Linked DNA regions of Homo sapiens: region 1 is linked to region 2. A link means that fine-mapping ties the variant in region 2 to the expression of a gene that starts in the linked region. Tissue or cell type: whole blood. Region 2 holds a variant in brackets; the other region holds the start of a gene. All regions are shown on one strand. Distances are between the middles of the regions.

Evidence for each region. PIP is the estimated chance that this variant, and not a neighbour inherited with it, causes the effect.
Region 1: SPINT2 starts here. The variant in region 2 is fine-mapped to the expression of SPINT2 in whole blood (TOPMed, PIP above 0.99).

What each region holds. Positions count from the first base shown.
Region 1 is chr19:38,259,640-38,267,812 of GRCh38, forward strand. It overlaps SPINT2 (serine peptidase inhibitor, Kunitz type 2), which reads left to right and starts at 4,934. Exons shown (of 7, transcript NM_021102.4): 1 at 4,934-5,359. The coding sequence starts at 5,254. RefSeq lists enhancers at 1,550-2,487, 2,488-3,424, 3,565-4,482 and a silencer at 4,639-4,958.
Region 2 is chr19:38,283,868-38,292,040 of GRCh38, forward strand. SPINT2 (serine peptidase inhibitor, Kunitz type 2) reads left to right here. Exons shown (of 7, transcript NM_021102.4): 3 at 4,009-4,068; 4 at 5,271-5,324; 5 at 6,252-6,413; 6 at 6,670-6,708; 7 at 7,973-8,173. The coding sequence ends at 8,139. Among named protein-coding and RNA genes, the nearest start is that of C19orf33, 16 kb to the right of the region's middle. The variant C/T (reference allele first, on the strand shown) is at 3,469.

The DNA of each region.
Region 1 (8,173 bases), 24 kb before region 2:
TTTTTTTTTTTTTTTTTTTTTTTTTTTTTTTTTTTTTGAGTTGGAGTCACCTCAGGCTGGAGTATAGTATTGTGATCATGGCTCACTGCAACCTCTGCCTCCTGGGTTCAAGAGATTCTCCTGCTTCAGCCTCCTGAGTAGCTGGGACTACAGTTATACACCACTGTGTCCGCTTACTTTTTATATTTTCAGTAGAGATGGGGTTTCACCATGTTGGTCAGGCTGGTCTCGAACTCCTGACCTCAGACGATCTGCCCGTCTTGACCTCCCAAAGTGCTGGAATTACAGGCATGAGCCACCATGCCTGGCCTCTAACATTATATATAATGTACTCATTTAATGTATTGTCCATGCCAGGCGTGGTGGCTCACACCTGTAATCTCAGCACTATAGGATGCTGAGGCAGGAGGAGCAATTACATCCAGGAGTTCAAGATCAGCTTGGGCAACATAGTGAGACCCTGTCGCTACAAAAAAAAAAAAAAAAAAAAAAAGCCAGGTGCAATAGTACATGCTTGTAGTCCCAGTTACTCTGGAGGCTGAGTTGGGAGGATCACTTGAGTCCAGGAGATGGAGGACGCAGTGAACTGTGATTGCACCACTGCACTCCAGCCTGGGTGATGGAGTGAGACCCTGTCTCAAAAAGAAAAATGTCATATTTTCTGTTCTGTGCAGTGACAGAAAAAAAAAATTATTGTCTGTTTCCCAACTAGTAGCATACTAAAGGCAGGGGGACAGGACTGGTCCACTTTGGGTACAGGCAAAAAGAGGGTGCACTGTCTGTAGAGAATTTAAAAATAAAAAGCTGACCAAGGCCGGGCATGGTGGCTCATGCCTGTAATCCCAGCACTTTGGGAGGCCAAGGCAGGCAGATCACCTGAGGTCAGGAGTTCAAGACCTGCCTGGCCAACATGGTGAAACCCCATCTCCATAAAAATACAAAAATTAGCCGGGTGTGGTGGTACAAGCCTGTAATCCCAGCTACTTGGGAGACTGAGGCAGGAGAATCGCTTGAACCCGGGAGGTGGAGGTTGCGATGAGCCAAGATCGTGCCATTGCACTGCAGCCTAGGCGACAGACAGAGTGAGACTCCATTTCAAAAAAACTGACCAAAAGTTGGTCTAATTTTTATTTTACTTTGCAGTGACATTTCTAAACAGTGTCAATGATAAAATAGTCCTCCCCAGGGAAGAAACAGAAACAAAAACCTTTTGGTGGTCTGCTTTCTAAACAATTGATGCAATATAAAAAAGGGGGAAAAAAACAATTGATGCAATTACTGTCGGTTTTTTTTTTGTTTTGTTTTTGTTTCATTTTTTGAGACGGAGTTTCGCTCTTGTTGCCCAGGCTGGAGTACAATGGCACTATCTCAGCTCACTGCAACCTCCACCTCCCAGGTTCAAGCGATTCTCCTGCCTCAGCCTCCTGAGTAGCGCGGATTACAGGCATCCGCCACCACGCCCGACTAATTTTGTATTTTTAGCAGACAGGATTTCTCCATGTTGGTCAGGATGGTCTTGAACTCCCGACCTCAGGTGATCCGCTCGCCTCGGCCTCCCAAAGTGCTGAGATTACAGGTGTGAGCCAACCACGCCTGGCCTACTGTCAAGGTTTTTTTTTTGGTGTTTTTTTTTTTTTTTTTTTTTTTTTTTTTGAGACAGAGTCTCGCTCTGTCACCCAGGCTGGAGGGCAGTGGTGCAGTCTCAGCTCACTGCAACCTCCGCCTCCCGGATTCAAGCTATTCTCCTGCCTCAGCCTCCCGAGTAGCTGGGACTACAGGCGCCCGCCACCGCGCCCGGCCTCTTTTTTTTTTTTTTTTTTTTTTTTTTTGAGAACGAGTCTCGCGCCGTCGCTCAGGCTGGAGTGCAGTGGCGCAATGTCGGCTCACTGCAAACTCCACCTCCCAGGTTCAAGCGATTCTCCTGCCTCAGCCTCCCAAGTAGCTGGGACTACATGCGCCCACCACCACGCCCGGCTAGTCTTTTGTACTTTTTTTCAGTAGAGACGGGGTTTCACCGTGTTAGCCCAGATGGTCTCCATCTGCTGACCTCGTGATCCGCCCACCTCAGCCTTCTAAAATGCTGAGATTACAGGCATAAGCCACCGCACCCGGCCCTTCTTTTTTTTTTTTTTTTTTTTGAGACGAAGTCTCACACTGTCGCCCGGGCTGGTGTGCAGTGGGGCGATCTCGGCTCGCCGCAGCCTCCACCTCCCGGGTTCAAGCGATTCTCCTGCCTCAGCCTCTCCAGTGGCTGGGACTACAGGCGCGCGCCACCACGCCCGGCTAATTTTTGTATTTCTAGTAGAGACAGGGTTTCACTATGTTGGCCAGGCTGGTCTCAAATTCCTGACCTCGTGATCCGCCCACCTCGGCCTCCCAAAGTGCTGGGGATTACAGGCGTGAGCCACCTCTTTTTAATGAACTCTGAAGGATGATAAAGGCCAAGGGACAAACATTCCAAGCATCAGGAATGTTGATGCTTGGAATGTTTCTCAGGACAGATATGGAGATGCCCAGGCCTCCCAAAGTGCTGGGGATTACAGGCGTGTGAGCCCGGCCTCTTTTTTTTTTTTTTTTTTTTGAGAACGACTCTCGCGCTGTTGCTCAGGCTGGAGTACAGTGGCACAATATTGGCTCACTGCAAACCCCGCCTGCCGGGTTCAAGAGATTCTCCTGCCTCAGCCTCCCGAGTAGCTGGGACTACATGCTCCCGCCACCACGCCCGGCTAATCTTTTTGATTTTTTCACCGTGTTAGCCAAGATGGTCTTGATCTGCTGACCTCGTGATCCACCCGCCTTGGCCTCCCAAAGTGCTGGGATTACAGGCATGAGCCACTGCGCTCAGCCCTCCTTTTGAGTTTTTGTGTTTAAAGTTCAAAACTGGACAGATGCAGTGGCTCACGCCTGTAATCCCAGCACTTTGGGAGGTCAAGGTGGGCGGATCGTGAGGTCAGAAGTTCGAGACCAGCCTGGCCAACATGGTGAAACTCCATCTCTACAAAAAATACAAAAATTAGCTGGGCGTGGTGGCGGGTGGTGCCTGTAATCCCAGCTACTCAGGAGGCTGAGGCAGGAGAATTGCTTGAATCCAGGAGGTGGAGGTTGCAGTGAGCTGAGATCACAGCATTGCACTCCAGCCTGGGCAACAGGTGAAACTCTGTCTCAAAATAAAATAAAATAAAGAAAGAAGAGGCCTATACCTTCTTCCAAGCCTTGACGGCTCAGCACATACTTCTCTGTTTTCATGCTCAAGCCTAGGTTTAGTAGGCCTGAGTGGCAGTGGGAGATTCAAGTGCTGGGGGAGACCTTTGGCCTCACATTCAGATTCCACCTTGAGTCCCATGATCTCATTGCAAGGTTAGACTTCCATTGTTTAAGGTAAATACCATTTTGATAACTCAGTTACGGCTTTTCATGTATTATTATGCTAGGAGGGAGGCTGAAGAGTGGGAGTGGCCCTGGCTCCTGAACACACTATTCTCTTTCCTGCCTGAAGGCCTCCGCATGTGCCATTCCTGATTCTTGGAATGTTTGTCCCTTGGCCTTTATCATCCTTCAGAGTTCATTATCAAAGCCACCCCTCACAAAGCCCTTCCTCCGCCACCCCATTCAAAAGATCTCTTGTTATTTTCCATCCCAGCCCCTGATTCCTTTTCTGTATAGCACTGTCAAAGTGTTTTCAGGCCAGGTGTGGTGGTTCACGCCTGTAATACAACACTTTTGGAAGGATGAGACAGGAGGATCCCTTGAAGCCAGGAGTTTGAGACCAGCCTGGGCAACATAGCAAGTCCCCTGTCTCCACAAAAAATTTAAAAATTAGCTGGATGTGGTGGCTCACATCTGTAGTCCCAGCTACTTGGGAGGCTGAGGTGGGAGGATCCCTTGAGCCCAGGAGGTCAAGGCTGCAGTGAGCCAAGATCACTCCATTGCACTCCAGCCTGGGCAACAAGAGCAAAACTTCCATCTCAAAAAAAAAAAAAAAAAGAAATAATCTAAAAGTGTTTTCAATAATAATGCATTTATGTTGATTACCTTGTTGGCTATCCTCTACTCGTGTGCCTGCCCCACTCCATTCCCCTTTCTAGAGTCTGTTCACGTAACTCCTCTTCCAGGAAGCCCTCTTTGACTCCCAGGCTTGGTCAGGTGTCTTCTCTGGGTTTCCCCAGGGGCTTCCTTCCTCTCAATTCTGATGCTGCCTGTGCTAAGTATTTGTCTCCATATCTGTCCTGAGAACCTTGGAGCCAGGGCTCGGGGCTGTTTTTGCATGGGCCTATCACCTCCTCCAGGAAGCCCTCCTTGGCCCTCTCTCAGGCTGGATGGGAAAGCTGTCTGGGCTCCCATCATGCCCTGGTTTTCTAGCGACCCAGCCTCTGATCCCTAAGCTTGGCCTTCCCCATCACAGCTTTCATCACTTTGTGCTAAGCTTCCGCTATCACTACTCTGGGCCGTTCCTGTTTGGTGACTCAGGGACCAGTCTGGCATGGCCACCGCTGGGTCCCCAGCATTAAGCCCTGGAGCATGAGCCCAGTGAACTTTGAAATTCAGGAAGGAATTCACAGGAAAGCTGCGGCGAGGCGGGCAGAAAACCACAGGCTTCCAAGAAACGCGTGTCTGCCGCCCCCTCCTCCCACCCTGAGGCCAGTCCTAGAGCGAAGGCCCTCCTCCGACGTCGTCACCAAGCCCAAGGGAAGGGTGGCAGGTGCTCAGCGGGCAGACGCCCCGCCCCGCCCCGCCAGGTTCTGTTGGGGGCGAGGCCCGCGCAAGCCCCGCCTCTTCCCCGGCACCAGGGGCGGGCCCAGGTGCGCCCAGGGCCGGGGAGCGGCCGCGCAGGTGCCTGCCCTTTGCGCCTGCGCCCAGCTCGCCCTGCCTAGCCAGGTGCGCCCCGCCCCCTGCCTGCCCGGCCACCTTCGGGAGCCGCTTCCAATAGGCGTTCGCCATTGGCTCTGGCGACCTCCGCGCGTTGGGAGGTGTAGCGCGGCTCTGAACGCGCTGAGGGCCGTTGAGTGTCGCAGGCGGCGAGGGCGCGAGTGAGGAGCAGACCCAGGCATCGCGCGCCGAGAAGGCCGGGCGTCCCCACACTGAAGGTCCGGAAAGGCGACTTCCGGGGGCTTTGGCACCTGGCGGACCCTCCCGGAGCGTCGGCACCTGAACGCGAGGCGCTCCATTGCGCGTGCGCGTTGAGGGGCTTCCCGCACCTGATCGCGAGACCCCAACGGCTGGTGGCGTCGCCTGCGCGTCTCGGCTGAGCTGGCCATGGCGCAGCTGTGCGGGCTGAGGCGGAGCCGGGCGTTTCTCGCCCTGCTGGGATCGCTGCTCCTCTCTGGGGTCCTGGCGGCCGACCGAGAACGCAGCATCCACGGTGAGGGCCGGGCGGGTAGGCTGGAGGCGGGGCGCAGGGGGCAGAGGCTCGGGGGTCAACGGGGGTCTGAGCAGGGAGAACTGGCGGGGGAGGAAACTGGGGGCTACTTGATGGCGTTCAGCGGGTGTGGTGGAACCAGCCCTGGAGGATTGAGCCTTGAAATGAGGTTTGGGAGCCTTCGACAGCGAAGACGGGCGGAGGAGCGAGGGTTAGGAGAGTTTCCTTCGGGTGGAGGAAGAGTCAAGGGGTATTGACCAAGAAGGCGTGGCACTGCCCCTTCCTGTGGCAAGAACGGGGTGAGGAGCCGAATTGAAGACCAGCCTTCTCCTGGCGGTGGAAAGTTCCATGGCCAAAGCTCAGGGAGAGGCCAGGCCTGTGAGATGGTGGGGGTTGGGTTGGGTGACCTGGTGGCCGTTTTAGACTCGGAAGAAGCCCATCTCACCCCTGCCTCTTTGGAGATTGGACAAGAGCCTCCCCTGAAGTTTTTGTAGTTGAGTTGCAGTAAAGTAGGTGCCCGAGAAGGAGGGAGCAAGAAAGGAAACAAGCTTTGGGGAAGAGGAAGCTCTGCTAAGGCTCGAGAGAGTATTGGCGTTGAGCAGCTGGTGTTGGGGTCTTTGGATTGGCCCTTAGAAGTCGGTGGTGAATAAGGTGATTTAAACTTCTACACTCTTAAGGAAGTGTGGTCTGAAAGGTCTCTTTGAACAAGTGTTGTTATAACCTTAACTGCTTCAGACAAGCACCAGCGTGTTTTGAAAAGAGCTCTCTTGAAAGCAAGAATTCATTGATTCAGCAAAACTTACTGAGGCCCTGCTACGTGTCAGGCACTGGCGCTGGTTATAACAGTTAACTCAGACTAGCTGGGTTCCTGCATTCACAGAGCTAATATTCCAGTGGGAGAGGCAGAGCTAGTGAAGGTTTAAAAAGCACTTGCCATGAGATTAAGTTACTGAGAATTAAATGAACCAGGTGAAGTACACCAACAGGGTGACGTAAGATGTTGGGGGCGGCTTTAGCTCAGGTGGTCGGGGGACGTCTCCGTGAGGAGGGTGACATCTGAGCTCTAACATGAAGAATGAGGCAGTAGCCACACGGAGACCTGGGGGACCAGTGTCCAGTTGCAGGCAATAGAGTACAAAGGCCTTGAAGCTGGAACAAGCTTGGTTGGGTTCAGGGAAAAGACAGAGCCAGCCTGGCTGGAGCAGGCGTGAAGGAGGGGAGGACTGGAGGAGGATGGGAGGTGGGAGAGGTTGGCTGCAGCCAGATGGCCTAGGGCTTTATAGACAGGTGCTGGTGCTTGAACCCGGGAGGCGGATGTTGCAGTGAGCCAAGATCGCGCCACTGCATTCCAGCTTGGGCAACAAGAGTGAAACTCCCATCTCAAAAAAAAAAAAAGAAGGCCGGGTGATGTGGCTCATGCCTGTAATCCTAGAACTTTGGGAGGCCAAGGCGGGCAGATCACTGGAGGCCAGGAGTTCAACACCACCCTAGGCAACATGATGAAACCCCGTCTCTACCAAAAATACAAAAATTAGCTGGGCATGGTGGTGCACACCTGTAGTCCCGGCTACTCGGGAGGCTGAGGCAGGAGAATCGCTTGAAGCCCAGAGGCGGAGGCTGTAGTGAGCTGAGATCAAGCCACTGCACAGCAGCCTGGGCGACACAGCAAGACTCAGTCTCAAAAAAAAAAAAAAGAGCAGGCTAGGTGTGTACCAAGTCATCACCTGTGGTAACTTCTGGGGACTGGTTAATTTCTCTGTGCCCTAGGCAGGAGAAAAAAGTGAATTGGTGGGGAGAGGCTCAGCTGTAGGTGACTGGGAGTCAGGAATGCAGACGTTGATCATTCTTGCAATTCGAACCAGAATTTGGCAGCTCTGCTGGACTTTTTCAGTTTAAGTAATTACGTTAGGATGTACCTCCCAGTTACCTGGCCTCTTGCTACCTCTGGTGCTTACTCTGAGCTGGGACATGGCCTCTTGCTACCTCTGGTGCTTACTCTGAGCTGGGATGTGCCATTTAACCTTTGAAACAGCCGGGTGCGGTGGTGAAGTTACTTGCCTTGCCCGAGGTCACTCGGTAGTAGTAATTGACAAAGCCAGGTCTCACTGCAGAGGCCTTCTCTGTTCAGAGTGGCCTACCTGACTGCTGCTGCCGACTGGACCTACTGACCTTTCAGAAGTACTAGTGTCTGACTGGGTGAACTCATGCCCTCACTCATCGTAAGTTCTGTTTGTTTGAAAGCTTGAACAGCTTAATCGGAGGCAGAAGGCAGTTTTGACTTTTTTTTCCTCGCTCCTTCCTGATTGCTTCTGTTTTCTCCGGAAGCGAGTCATCCACTGGGAGTGTGGTGTTGCTGAAGCTCCATGCAGTGGCTCAGGTGCTGCTGGATGAGTGTGGTGGTGAGGGAGGAGTGAACAGAGAATGTGTGAGGGAGGGAGGATGGGGGTTGGTCAAGGAATTTATTCTGTATGAAAACATGAGGGGGCGGAGGGCCGAGGTAGATGGTAGGGCCAGCAGATTGTTGGAGTTGAGGTTCTGAAGGGAATGAACCAGACAGATAGGATGCAGTGGGTAGTGAGTGAGATGCATGAGAGGGAGGTTCTGAAGAGGTGGCAGTTACTGAGACAGGTCTAGGTGTGACCCTGAGAGGAAGCGGGGGGGCGAGGGTGGGAGGAGATCAGGTGGAGGTCTTGGGACCTAGAGGTCAGAGGACCATCTACCTGGATATAGAAATCTCCAAGAATGATCATAAGAGCAGCGGGAGAGGTGGCAGGCCCGGAGCTAAAGTTGGGAAGGAAGAAGTAGTTGTCTGGGTTG
Region 2 (8,173 bases):
GTCTTGCTCTGTCGCCCAGGCTGGAGTGCAGTGGCGCGATCTTGGCTCACTGCAAGCTCCGCCTCCCGGGTTCACGCCATTCTCCTGCTTCAGCCTCCTGAGTAGCTGGGACTACGGGCACCCACCATCACGCCCAACTAATTTTTTGTGTTTTTAGTAGAGACATGGTTTCACCTTGTTAGCCAGGATGGTCTCGATCTCCTGATCTTGTGATCTGCCTGCCTCAGCCTCCCAAAGTGCTGGGATTACAGGCATGAGCCACTGCGCCCAGCCCCTGCTTTTTTTTTAGACAGGGTCTCACTGCAGCCTCCACCTCCTGGGCTCAAGCAGAACCTCCCACCTCAGCCTCCTGAGTAGTTGGGACTACAGGCACATGCCACCACACCTTGCTCATTTTGAAATTTTTTATAGAGGCGGGGGTCTCCCTATGTTACCCAGGCTGGTCTTGGACTCTTGGCCTCAAGTGATCCTCCCACCTGGGCCTTCCAAAGGGCTGAGATTACAGGCGTGAGCCACTGTGCCCAGCCAGATTTTGCTCTTTAGAGACAATTTATTAACTGGAATGTGGATACTTTCCTCTCTTTATTAGTTCTTGACAGTGGAATCTGGGTGACGTTTTAAAAAGCAGAAGAAACAGGCACCGTGTGAATGTCCTGGTGGCCGTACAGTGGTTTCACAGCAGACCCTCACTCCTCCTCTTCCCAGAAAGGGAGCAAAACAACAGGGCAGAGCTGGGGCCAGCGTGACCCAGCTTCCTTTCTCCCACTTTACTAAGTGCAAGTTTCAGAGCAGACCAAAGAGGAAGTAGCCTTGCCTTCTTGAGCAGAGGCTTTTTGATCCACTCCGACAGGGCTGCCCCTCTTGTTCCCTGGGTATTTGGGTTATTTTATTTTATTTTGAGACAGAGTCTTGCTCTGTCGCCCAAGTTGGAGTGCAGTAGAGCAATCTCGGTTCACTGCAACCTCAGCCTCCTGAGTAGCTGGGATTCCAGGTGTCCACCACTACGCCTGGCTAATTTTTGTATTTTTAGTAGAGATGGGGTTTCGCTATGTTGGCCAAGCTGGTCTTGAACTTCTGGCCTCAGGTGATCTGCCTGCCTTAACCTCGCAAAGTGCTGGGATTACAGGTGTAAGCCACCGCACCTGGCCGCTATTTGGGTTATTTTTAATTGTGGGACAAGTGACTTGAATAGCTCACCCAGCCAAGTTACCGATCAAGTTAAAACAAACATACGTCCTGGAATCCATCCTCTTTGCGGCCCTCACCTGCGAGGAGTTCTGTGGAATCAAGGTAATTTTGACCCTGATAACCTCACAGTTTAAATTAAAACCTAAACCTCCCAGCAGCGTGCCCTGGCTCTTAGCTGAGTGAGAAGGACTTCCTGAGAGCTGGTGGTGATGAGACATTGGCCCTTTGGGGCTGCTCCATCCCGAGTGTTCCAGAGACCCGAGGGTTTGGCCATCCAAATCCTATGTTAAAGATTTTCACTTTTTTCTTTTTTTCTCGCTTAGTCGCCTACCAGGCTGGAGTGCAGTGATGTGATCTTGGCTCACTGCAACCTCCACCTCCTGGGTTCAAGTGATTCTCGTGCCTCAGCCTCTCAAGTAGCTGGGACTACAGGCGTGCACCTCCACACCTGGCTAATTTTTGTGTATTTGGTGAAGATGGAGTTTCACCATGTTACCCAGGCTGGTCTCAAACGCTTGAGCTCAAGCAATCTGCCTGCCTCCCAAAGTGCTAGGATTACAGGCGTGAGCCACTGTGCCCAGCTAAACATTTCACTTTAACTGAAAAAACAAACAATTACACTGGCCTTTAAGTAAAAAATAAATAAAAATATTTTCAGCGGCACTCCCCCTAACATGTTTTTTTGATGACTTGGTGTTGTCTCTGTGAGCCACCGTTGACCCAGTTACTGTATTTCTATCGTCAGCTGTGATTCATTATGAAGGAGGACTTGGGAGAACTATCTTTTGCTACCTTTTCTGAGCTATCCCAGTCAAGAGTTGCCTTTAGCAAATGTATCTGTCCATCCTGGCTGTTTGTTACCTCCTCAGGAAGGGAGCTGAAGTGTTGAGAACTCAGGCAGTAGACAGTGAACATAGCCAGGGGACATGAGTGGCTGTGTGTTCCTGGGAGCAGGCAGGTTAGCTGTCTCCCTAGAGTCCGGCCCCGCCTTGCAGGTCCAGAAAGCACATATTGGCATCTGACTGGCTGCAATGTGTGTCTCTCGAGGCGCTCCCATGTGAGTCTGTAAAGAGCTAAACACTGCCAGGGCTGCTAGTGCCTGGGGTCCTTTGCCGGCATATTCTCTCCCAGGCAGGCAGGCTCTGTGGGAAGGCAAGTGAGAATGAGACTGCCAGTGTATTAATTCATCATGAGAACCAGGACCGCCCCGGGGAGCAGGCACTCGTGTCCCCGGGCCCACGCCTTTAGTCCGCATAGGCAAGTCTCTAGTCCAGTTGCCAGAAGACTGCTTGATGAAGAGAGAGGCAGAACGCGGGGAGCTGGTTTGCAAGGTGACCGTTTAATAGCATCAGGCTAGGCCAGGCCCGAGGATGCGGAGGAGCCAGGGTTCCCTCCATCTTGGACGAGGTGTGGGAGATAAGCGCTGTGTAAAATGTATCATGTGGGCCGGGTGCGGCGGCTCACGCCTGTAATCCAGCACTTTGGGAGGCCGAGGTGGGCAGACCAAGAGGTCAGGAGATCGAGACCATCCTGGCTAACACGGTGAAACTCCGTCTCTACTCAAAATACAAAAAAAAATTAGCCGGGCCTGGTGGCGGGCGCCTGTGGTCCCAGCTACTCCAGAGGCTGAGGCAGGAGAATGGTGTGAACCCGGGAGGTGGAGCTTGCAGTGAGCTGAGATCGCGCCAGAGCACTCCAGCCTGGGCGACAGAGCGAGACTCCGTTTCAAAACGAAAAATTTGTCATGTTAACCTTTAAAAAAAGTGTCGTGTTTTGTTTTGTTTTTCTCCCCCCAAAGAGATTAGGTCTTTTTATGTTGCCCAAGCTGGTCTCAAACTCCTGGCCTCAAGTGATGCCCCCCACCCTTCACCCAGTGTAAGCACTGGTATTACAGTTGAATTAGTTAGATGAGTTGATACAGTTAAGCAATTATTTGGCCCTGGAAGTCACTGTGTTTTGATTGTTTGTTTCTTTCTTTGAGACGGAGTTTCACTCTTGTTGCCCAGGTTGGAGTGCAATGGTCAATGGTGTGATCTCGGCTCACTACAACCTCTGCCTCCCAGGTTCAGGCGATTCTCCTGCCTCAGCCACCCGAGTAGCTGGGATTACAGGCATCTGCCATCACGCCTGGCTAACTTTTTGGGTTTTTTTGTTTGTTTTTTGAGACGGAGTCTCACTCTGTTGCCCAGGCTGAGTGCAGTGGTGCGATTTCGGCTCACTGCAACCTCCGCCTCCCGAGTTCAAGCAATTCTCCTGCCTCAGCCTCCGGAGTAGCTGGGA[C/T]TACAGGCGCGTGCCACCACACCCGGCTAATTTTTTGTATTTTTAGTAGAGATGGGTTTTCGCAGTGTCGGCCAGGATGGTCTCGATCCCTGACCTCGCGATCTGCCCACCCTGGCCTCCCAAAGTGCTGGGATTACAGGCGTAAGCCACCGCACCCGGCCCTAACTTTTGTATTTTTAATAGGTTTTGCCATGTTGGCCAGGCTGGTCTCAAACTCCTGACCTCAGGTGATCCACCTGCCTTGGCCTCCCAAAGTACTGGAATTACAGCCATGAGCCACCACACCCGGCCAAGTCACTGTCTTTTTAAGGTCACTTTGCACATCTCTGCTCTGATTCCCTGCAAGTTAATCTTAAGTTTCCTCTTCGGGAGGCAATCTTGGTTCCTTATTTCCAAGTTGTGGTCTGGCATGCACATTGAAGGTCCCATGTAAAGGAGAAGTGGATGCTGTGGTGAGAGGCGCACAGGGCCAGCTCATTCTTTGTCCCTGGCAGTCTCTCGAAAGCTCTTTCACTGTGCTGTTTCTTTGTCCCCTTGCAGAGAATGCCACGGGTGACCTGGCCACCAGCAGGAATGCAGCGGATTCCTCTGTCCCAAGTGGTAGGTTCTTAAAGAGACCCGCGATGGAGTGAGGCCACCGGATGGGTCATTGTGAAAGGACACTTGTCATTTGGGAACTGTCACAGGCTTCCCTCTCATGGTTCTGTTTACTCAAAATTGGCAAACCGGGGGCTCTGCCTGGGCTGCCGGCTTCTGGCTCCAGCATCCTTATGGGGGAGTTTATACTGTCCAGCTGACACAGGGGCCGGGGATCCTGCAGCACTTCCTGGCTGGCCCCCATCTCCTCCTGGAGGATGGGATGGAGGTGGCTGCTGCCCATGAGGCTCAGGCCCCTCCTTGCTGTGCGGGCCTCCAGCTGCTCTGCTGACCCCACTCCCCACCCACCCTCCTGTCTGCCTGTTCTGTCTCCTCTGCTTCCTTTGCTCCCTGTTGCCATCGCTGTCCCCTGCCCCGTGGGCATCCTCTGTCCTCTGCCACCCCCGCCTCCCCGCCACTGCAGCTTGTGATCTCAAGATGTGTGTTAGCTTGCTTTGTAGTGCTGGCGGCTGCTGCCCCATTCCTCCTTTATGGTTTAAGGACTCTGCATCGGGCGCCTGGGGTGAGTGGTCCCGATGCACTACCAGGTAGCAAATGCACCCTCGGGGCAGACCTCAGGCCATGGACTCTGGGAGGCTGCTGTGGAGGGGGTACTGCACCGCACCCCTGCTGGAGGATGGGACTCCCCCGGCAGCTGCTACCCACCGAGTGCACTGTAGCTCAGCAGCTGTTGGGCCGGCTGGCTTGCAGAGTGCTGGGGCGTTAGGGTGGTCACTTTCCAGCTTTGCTAGGCCTGGAGTCCTGTGCCTGTCCTGGCTTTGCTCTGCCTGGCTCCCTGTTTATCCTCTGCTAGCCCCCCCACACACCAGCTCTGGTTTCCATCTTGTTGGAGAGGAACATGTCCCCCTCACTGTATTAGAAAGTGTGAACAAGACCGTGTTCCCTATAATATTAGGAGCTGTGGCAGGCTTGGTTTCTATAGGAACCCTGAGGTGGCGGCAGGGCCACCACATCCAGCACTCTCAGTGTGTGCGTAGAGCCCATTAGGGCTGGGGTGACGTGGCAGAGCCGGCCATGGAAGGGGCTACACACCCCTTCTTAAAGGCGTGTCCACACTCCTCAGTGGGCCCTTCCAGACCCAGACCCAGCTAGGCCTGTGTCCTGTGTCCGGCCCAGCCTCCCTAACACAGATGTTTGTGTTTCAGCTCCCAGAAGGCAGGATTCTGAAGACCACTCCAGCGATATGTTCAACTATGAAGGTAAAACTCCAAAGAGGCCAGGTGCGGTGGCTCACACCTGTAATCCCAGCGCTTTGGGAGGCTGAGGTGGGCGGATCACGAGGTCAGGATATCAAGACCATCCTAACATGGTGAAACCCTGTCTCTACTAAAAATACGAAAAATTAGCTGGACGTAGTGGCATGCACCTGTAGTCCCAGCTACTCAGGAGACTGAGGCAGGAGAATTGCTCAAAGCCTGGGAGGCGGAGGGTGCAATGAGCCAAGATTGCGCCACTGCACTCCAGCCTGGGCAACAGAGTGAGACTCTGTCTCAAAAAAAAAAAAAAAAAAAAAAAAAAAAACTCCGAAGAAACTTATATATGGGGCAAAACATGTATTCTTAGTTGGGTATTGAGAGACACTTGCGGATTTTCACTGAGGAAGTTGTAGAGCAGGGCTCTCCCCTCCCCAGGTGGTGGCAGCCCCCTGAGGTTGGGGTCAAGGTGACAGGCCCCACGTGGATGCCGCCAGCAGTGGGAAGGAGGCTGCGCCTGTGGAGATGTGCGTTAGAGGCGTAGCCTGGCACGTGGCTCTGCAATTTACATTGTCCCTGAACCTCTCGCCAGCGGCTTGGCTGTGGGCAAGTGACTGTTGCCCCGCCTCAGAGTTCCCATGTATAAAATGAAGGGTCCCAGATAGGTCTCATAGAGACTCAGCCACTGCATGTAAAAGGCCTAGAACAGGGCTTGGCAGAGAGCAGCCTTCAAAGCTCCGAAGCCGTCACCTGGACCCAAGGAGCAGCGCGTCAGAGCCGCTGCACTGGTCTTGGGTGTAATTTACAGGCTTCTTTACCAGAGAGATGTTTCTCCGTCTGCTGGAGCCGCAAGCCTCCTCAGGCACTTTCTGGCTTGCTTCCCCTCCTTGCGGGCCCTACTAATTTGTATTCCCTGGGCTGTCTTACTCCTAGAATACTGCACCGCCAACGCAGTCACTGGGCCTTGCCGTGCATCCTTCCCACGCTGGTACTTTGACGTGGAGAGGAACTCCTGCAATAACTTCATCTATGGAGGCTGCCGGGGCAATAAGAACAGCTACCGCTCTGAGGAGGCCTGCATGCTCCGCTGCTTCCGTAAGTCTGCAGCCCCTCAGCCCAGGAAGCCCTGCCCTTGAGGACCCCGGTCCATCTCCCCATCCCTAAAATATGAAGGCCTTGGAAATGCTGTTCTTGGGCCCACCAGGGCAGCAAGGCCTCTAAGCCCCAGAAAAGCTGGAAGAAAGCCCCTCAGAAAGAGCTCCCCATGGAGGCCCTGGCTGAGGGGATCCCCTGCGGCAGCTCTGTGGAATGGGGGCTGTGAGCTGACCTCAGGCTGTGTGTTCTCTTCCAGGCCAGCAGGAGAATCCTCCCCTGCCCCTTGGCTCAAAGGGTAAGTGGCCCCTTACCCTCCTCCTGCCATCAGCCTGCCTCCTCCCTTCCTTGACTGAGCTCAGCCCTGCCCAGCTGTGGTTTACATTATCCTTCACTGTGAACATCATCTTGGCAGAAAGTCATGTTTCTGCGTGAGAATGGCGAGGTGGTGGTTTGTCCCACCGTTCAGTGTACACAGTTGGGGCTGGAGTGAGTCAGTCACAAGGCAGGCCCTGCCCAGGCGGCGTGGGTGACTGGGGATGAGGTCTTCCTGTTGAGCATTTGAGGACTGCTGCACACGGGCCTGAGGCTGGCCTGAGGTGTGGAGGGAGCGCTGCTATGTGGGGCATAAGAGTTGGTCACGGGTGACAGGACGGAGGACCACGGGCCAGGGTGTTTCCCAACACAGTCTGGTCTGAGCGGGAGGCCAGGCCTCTGGCCTGTGTTTCTGAGCTTGAGTTGCAGGTGATAATGTTGGCACAAAAGACCTGCCATGCCAGTCTGGCCTCTTTCTCCACCTGTTTCCCGGTGAAGGAGCCAGGACCTGGCCTGCGAGTCTGTCCTGTTCTAGCAGTGAAGCCTGGTTTGCCAGGCACGGGGCTGGGAAGCAAGCAGTCTGGGTCTGGAGGGTGGCCCCAAAAAGGCCAACTCTGCAGCTCCACAGCCACATGGGGGAGGCTGCCACAGGTCACACTCCTTAGCCGGATCCCCTCCTGAAGAAAAGCATCTGAGCTGACCAGCGAGACTGCAGTGGGGCAGACACTATTAAATTTGCTGGCACAGCTCTGAGTACCCCCTCGCTTCCACCCTGACTTCATCCCGCAGTAGCTCTCAGCCCTCCCAGCCCCTGCAGGGCCACGTCTTTCTCTATTGCCGGTCAGCGTGTGTGTGCACAAAGCCCCTAAGGTTTCATGTGTACACACCGGTGCTAAGTGTTTTTTACACCCTTGTGCATCTCTCGGCCTGGGGCTCCTGTGCAGGTTGCCCTGAGAGTTGGGTTTTTAGTTCAAAAAGAAGGAACACAGATGACTACTCTGCTGGCGACACGGCCACTCTGCTGGCACGCACATAGCATGGCGCCTCCTTTTTTGGGGGACTCTCCTTGGTGGCATCTCTGGCAGGCTGTGTCCTCTCCAGCTGCAGTTCTGGACCCTGTCTGGGTTGGGGAGGGGCATTTGGTCCTCAGGCTGAGCCCACCTGGATTCCCCAGGCCCTTGGTGAGCGCCACTCTGGCTGCAACTCCCCTTGCCTGGCCCGTCCTGAGGCCCCTCTCTCGTCCTCAGTGGTGGTTCTGGCGGGGCTGTTCGTGATGGTGTTGATCCTCTTCCTGGGAGCCTCCATGGTCTACCTGATCCGGGTGGCACGGAGGAACCAGGAGCGTGCCCTGCGCACCGTCTGGAGCTCCGGAGATGACAAGGAGCAGCTGGTGAAGAACACATATGTCCTGTGACCGCCCTGTCGCCAAGAGGACTGGGGAAGGGAGG